Regions from separate parts of the Homo sapiens genome. Here region 2 is linked to region 1. The links come from fine-mapping of genetic effects on plasma protein levels. A gene starts in region 1. The other region holds a variant in brackets. All regions are shown on one strand. Distances are between the middles of the regions.

Region 1 (2,903 bases):
CCACTCTGGCTCCTTCAGCTCTGTGTGCCAAGTGCCTACAAGGATAAAAATCAAACCAGCCTTCCCTAGGATCAAAGGAGAACCTGAGCAGGAGTGCTGTAGCTGGCAAGGCCCCAGAAAGGGCTGCATGGGCTGAGCTGGAGTCAGGAATCATTTCAGTGCAGTGGGCCCTTTGTCTCCAAGAGTACTAATCCCCCTAATGGGGAAGCAGCGAGAGGGTGTGGTTAAATCTTAATGAAGAGTGGGACTGAAGGTAACACACTGATCAAAGACAATTCAGCCAGAGTCAGATTCTTTATCCTAGACCAGTGATTCTCAAGCTTGGGCATGGACTGTGGCTCATGCTTGTAATCCCAACACTTAGGGAGGTGGAAGTGGGAGGAACAATTGAGGCCAGGAGTTTGAGATTAGATGGAGCAGCACAGTGAAACCTCATCTGTACAAAAAAAATTTAAAATTAGCCAGGAGTGCTGGTGCACACCTGTAGTCCTAGCTACTCAAGGCTGAGAAGGGAGGATTACTTGAGCCTGGGTCAAGGCTGCACTAAGCTATGATTGTGCCACTGCACTCTATCCTGGGTGACAAAGCAAGACCCTGTAAAAAAAAAAAAAAAAAAAAAAAAAAAAAAATCAAGCCTGGGCATGCATCGGAATCACCTGGAGGCATGAAAACAGATTGCTGGGCCTACCTCCAGAGTATGATTCCATAGATCTGGGATGCGGCCTGAGAATTTGCATGTCTAACAAATTCCCGCTGAGGCTGCTGGTCTAGGGACCATACTTGGAGACCACTGTCCAGATACTGCTGCTATTCAAAGTGTGGTCCCCAGACTGGCAACATGGGGGTCACCTGGGAGCGTATTAGAAATGCAAAATACTGAACTCTGCCCCAGACCTTCTGAATCAGAGCCTGCAGTGCAACAAGATCCCCAGGTGATTCCTATACACATTAAAGGCTGAGAAGGCAGTGCTTCCCACACTCGTCAGTCAAGGGAATCTCCTGCAGGGTTTAAAATTTAGATTCCTGGGCTCCCTATCTGGAGACTTGGATTTAGAAAGTTTGGGAGATCCCAGAAATTGCTACAATTAAGTCCCGCTGAGTGATTATTATGGTCAGGCCAGCATGGGAACTCCGGCTCATTTTCCTCAGTCCTGTGTTCCTTGGACAAGACTAAGCCACAAAGCCAGAGAAAAACCTTTTGCTCCACGATCATGACAAGGCAGCAGCTGCTCCCCTAGAAACAGGAACTTGGGGAAGGTGGCTCCTCGACGGTCTGTGATGCCGTCAGAGGAAACGGGTGGTTGTGAGAACCACAGAGTCTGCAGTCGGAGCTAGAGCTCCAAGGACCCCACGCCTGTGTCTCTGTGACAGAGCTCAAAGGGCCCTGGGCCTTCCCTCCCTGGCTCGGCTGTGCTTGGGAGGGTTCCCCAGTCCAGAATCCCTAAGGAGCATGGGGCAGCTGATCCATCCCTGGTGTACAAACTGCTGACTGCAGACAGATGCTGAGCTACCCAAACCAACACCTAGCCTCTCCCTGAAGATCCTCCCAGGCTGAGAGAGTTCTGGGTGTCCTAGGACCAAGGACACTGGCAGACTTCCAGAAGGGCCCCCAAAGCCCTAACCTGTCCAGCCAGAGCATGCGTCTCAGCAGAGCTGTCTTCCCAAGCCTTTGATGACAAACCAGTAAGTATGCTTGCTTTTGTTCTTGGATGGCCTGGAGACAGGTGAGGAAGAATGGTCTCCCCTGCCCCGACTGGGACTGGGCTTTATTTGCTGTTGGGAAAAAAACAAGCTCAAGGAGAAGGGGGAGTGGTTCTACTGAGGCTGTAAAGAGGGGTGGTTTCTGGGGGTCCCAGAAGAACCAAGACTCACCTGCTCCACCTTTGACCTCCTCTTGGAGCTTACGCTCTTCCGTGCAGCTTGTCTTCACGCCCGTCCTAGTCCCATCTCAGGTGCGCACTTGCTGTGTGACTTTGGGCCCCTCTCTGCGCTGCAGTCAGACTCCAAAGTCAGGAACGTGAGGGCTACCATCTCTCAAGACATTTCAGCTGTAGAGCCTACAGTGCACTCTCACTCTCAAAGGGGTGATATTTCTCAATTGGAAGAGAGGGAGAGGTCTCCCTTTAACTCAATCCAAATTCATTTTTTTTTTTGAGTTGGGGTCTCATTCTGTTACCCAGGCTGGAGTGCAGCGGCGTAATTATGACTAACTATAGACTTGAACCACTGGGCTCAAGTGATCCTCCTGCCTTAGCCTCCCAAGTAGCTGAGACTACAGGCATGTACCACCATGCCCAGCTAATTCGTTATATTTTTGTAGAGATGGCAGGCGGTGGTGGGGGTGGGGGTGGGGGTTCTCACTATGTTGCCCAGGCTGGTCTCGAACTCCTGGCCTCAAGCAATCCTCCTGTCTCAGCCTCCTAAATTGCTGGGATTACAGGCATGAGCCACTGTGCCTGGCCAAATTCATCACTCTTACCCCCACTGCTGAAAAATGATCTTCAGAAGCACAAAATACACATGATGGCAGGCCCAGTCCTGCACGAATGGGCTACATGAACAGAATCACATGGTTGTCCTCTCAGGGACTTGGTCACTGTATCTGAAATGGGACCCAAGTGAGATACTGAAAAAAAAAAAAAAAAAAAAAACACAATATTCTGGGCAGCGTGCTCATCTCGGCTGCCGTTGACTAACTTTTTCCTTTCACCCGATGCCTCATGTCCTCCGGAAAGTGCCTGGCACATAGTAAGTTTTTCAAAAATTTGTAGAGTTAATGATTTGATGCTGTCTTACAAAATGTGCGGCTAATACTCTGCCTCCTCCTAGGCTGGCCCATTGTATGGTCTTTATTTTGCCCCCAGGGGCTTATTGGCCTTGACCTGACCAAGTCCTTGACCAGG
Region 2 (2,903 bases), 32 kb after region 1:
CAGCATCTTCTTGACAGTGTTTTTGCATCCTAACATATCTGCCACCTGAGTCTTTGTAAGAACAGCCAACGCTGAATGTTCACTCACACAGTGCCAGACCCTGTACTGAGGGCTCTGTGTGTGATTTGATTTCACCCTCACAAGACCCCCATCTATTATGAACATATTATTGATGACCAAGAGAGCAAGTCTTTGTCCTGCTTCTGCCCCAGACACTTCCCTTCTGCCGGGGCCCCATGGTCACGTTGCCTATCTTCGTTTCCCAGCCTAGGTGGGGCCGAGTCCCAGCAGGGCCTCAGTGCCACCCCTGGACCCCTTTCTCCTCAGGCTCTTACTCTCTGTCAGTCCGCCTCAGCCGCCCTGCATCCTGGGACCGGATCAGACACTACAGGATCCACTGCCTTGACAATGGCTGGCTGTACATCTCACCGCGCCTCACCTTCCCCTCACTCCAGGCCCTGGTGGACCATTACTCTGGTATGGCCTTTCCCTGCCTCCAGGACTAGGCTGGGATAGTCTGTGGGGAGGAGCAGGCAGTGGTGCCCTTGGATATTTTACCTACTGTGGAGTATTCAGACAGACAGAAGAGCGGCCTCCCCTATTTTCACGCCAGTCCCTATGCCAAGAAATGCAGGCTGGGAGCCCTGTCTTCACCTCGTGCCCTGGCAGAAAAGCCACAGACCTCCTGTGTAGGCTCAGGTCAGTACCTTGCCTACCACTCTGGTTCTGACTCAGAGCCCCTGGCAGCAGGCAGAGTTCTCTCCACAGGAACCGGGCACAGAGCTGCTGCTGTGTGGGATTCAATCCTGACTCTCCTTAGTACTTCCTGGTGCCTGTCCTTCAACAGACACTGGAAGATGCAGTCACTGGGCACAGCGTCAGGGGGCAGAGAGGGAAGAGCACTCTTGTGAAAACTCATTAGGGGTTTTCTGCAGGTCACTCTGTGTGGAAGTAGACAGTGAGTAGAAGTAGACTGAGCATTCCTTAGCTTTCTTCTTCCCAAAGCAATTTCCTAACCAGAAACTTGAGCTCAAGAGGTCCATGAACTCACCCTAAATCATACAGTGACTGTCTCCCAAAAGTTAGCCCAGAAAGACCTTTGACTACATCTGTCTCCATGAAACCAATAGCTTGGGGCTCATGTCCTATCACTCTTTGGTAACCATGCCCCCTCCTGCCAACTGCAGAGGGCTGTCAGGGTGAGGGCTGTTGGGGAGAAGTAGGGTGGAGTCAGTCATGTCAGGGATGGAGGTCTCTTCCTCAGAGCTGGCGGATGACATCTGCTGCCTACTCAAGGAGCCCTGTGTC[C/T]TGCAGAGGGCTGGCCCGCTCCCTGGCAAGGATATACCCCTACCTGTGACTGTGCAGAGGACACCACTCAACTGGAAAGAGCTGGACAGGTAAAGTTGGGGACTCCTGGAAACATGAAAGCAGGACCAAGAGTTAGAAGGACCCACCCCTGGGAAGCCACAACCCGGAATGTACCTGTCACACTCAGGGACACCTGGCAGCTGGAGCCAGAGTGCACTGACTCAACTCCTGGAGCACGGCCCAGGCTCGACAGGTGGGGCTGGGGAAGCTGATCTGATAGGGAACAGGGGAGCCCCATGAGGTCCTCAGCAGGAGTGAAGGGTTTTGAGAACAGTGCAATTTTGTGTGTAGTGAGTACAGGGAGGAGGAAGAGGCTTCTTGACCCAATTATCTTCCTTTGTCCACAGCTCCCTCCTGTTTTCTGAAGCTGCCACAGGGGAGGAGTCTCTTCTCAGTGAGGGTCTCCGGGAGTCCCTCAGCTTCTACATCAGCCTGAATGACGAGGCTGTCTCTTTGGATGATGCCTAGGCCCAAAGGAGAGGCCAAAAGGGAAACCAAGGCTGCACACCTAGAACCCCAATTCAGCCTCCTGGGCACCCCAGAGGCAAGGCTGTGCACTCAGGGAGGGAGGGTGGGACACAGAGGTGCATCTAGGGTCCCACCTGTACCCTTGCTCTTTCCTCTCTTAGCCCTTAGAAGTCACCTACTTCCTTCCAGTGCCATGATCCCACCTGCGACCTCTAGTGCGAGTGCAGAGAAGGTGGGACCAGGGCCAGGGTTCCAAAAAGAGAATAAGCCTCCTGGGGGGTCTGACCTAGTTAGTTCTTGAGTTTGGGGTTTCCAGTACCATCTGGATGCCCTGCCTGTTGAGCCCCATTCTACATCCCCACCATTAACCAGGCCCCACCCACAAGGTAGAAACAACCCCTAGAGTCAACGAGAAAGTCATTTTCAGAAAATCTACAAGTCTCGTTGAGACCACCACCATACCTCAGAAGGTAGGACTGTGGCCTAGAAGGGAAAGGAAAGCTGAGATGATGTCTTACCGTAGCAGCAGATCTTGGATGGTCCAGGCTCTATGTGACCTCCAGAGCAAAGAGAAAGACTTCGGACAGTCTAGGTCCTCAAATGTCCCCCATTGAGGACAACAGCCCCAGCTCTTTTTCTTTTTTTTGAGACGGAGTCTTGCCCTGTTGCCCATGCTGGAGTGCAATGGCACGATCTCAGCTCACTGCAACCTCCATCTCCTGGATTCAAACAATTCTCCTGCCTCAGCCTCCAGAATAGCTGGGATTACAGGCGTACACCACCATGCCTGGCTAATTTTTTTGTATTTTTAGTAGACATGGGGTTTCACCACATTGGCCAGGCTGGTGTCGAACTCCTGACCTCAGGTGATCCACCCACCTTGGCCTCCCAAAGTGCTGGGATTACAGGTGTGAGCCACGGCACCCAGCCTAGCTCTCAGATCTCTATTTCATTTTGTGGCTTACCATTCCCTAGCACACTGGCCTTGCCATCTTGTGGCCGAATAAAAAATAACACCTCTTAAGTCTAGCACACTGCAGTGAGGCCAGGCACCTCAGTGCTGGGCA

Which allele goes with the higher level. Positions count from the first base shown, and alleles are read on the strand shown. Strength reflects both the effect of a copy and how common the allele is.
With allele T in place of C in region 2, the plasma level of the protein whose gene starts at base 1,324 in region 1 is lower (moderate association).

Evidence for each region. A credible set is the group of variants that fine-mapping cannot tell apart. PIP is the posterior inclusion probability: the model's chance that the variant is causal. Protein levels are from antibody-based Olink assays in UK Biobank. Linkage for the fine-mapping came from a reference panel and not from the study's own genotypes, which makes the PIPs less certain.
Region 2: its variant is the best candidate, but not a certain one, in a credible set for the plasma level of the SLA2 protein (UK Biobank, PIP 0.60). The variant lies in the coding sequence of SLA2. If it changes the protein, the assay may bind it differently, which can mimic a change of level.

Annotation. Positions count from the first base shown.
Region 1 is chr20:36,644,617-36,647,519 of GRCh38, reverse strand. SLA2 (Src like adaptor 2) reads left to right here and starts at 1,324. Exons shown (of 8, transcript NM_032214.4): 1 at 1,324-1,683.
Region 2 is chr20:36,612,799-36,615,701 of GRCh38, reverse strand. It overlaps SLA2 (Src like adaptor 2), which reads left to right. Exons shown (of 8, transcript NM_032214.4): 6 at 328-477; 7 at 1,265-1,397; 8 at 1,716-2,903. The coding sequence ends at 1,836. Among named protein-coding and RNA genes, the nearest start is that of RAB5IF, 8.5 kb to the right of the region's middle. The variant C/T (reference allele first, on the strand shown) is at 1,309.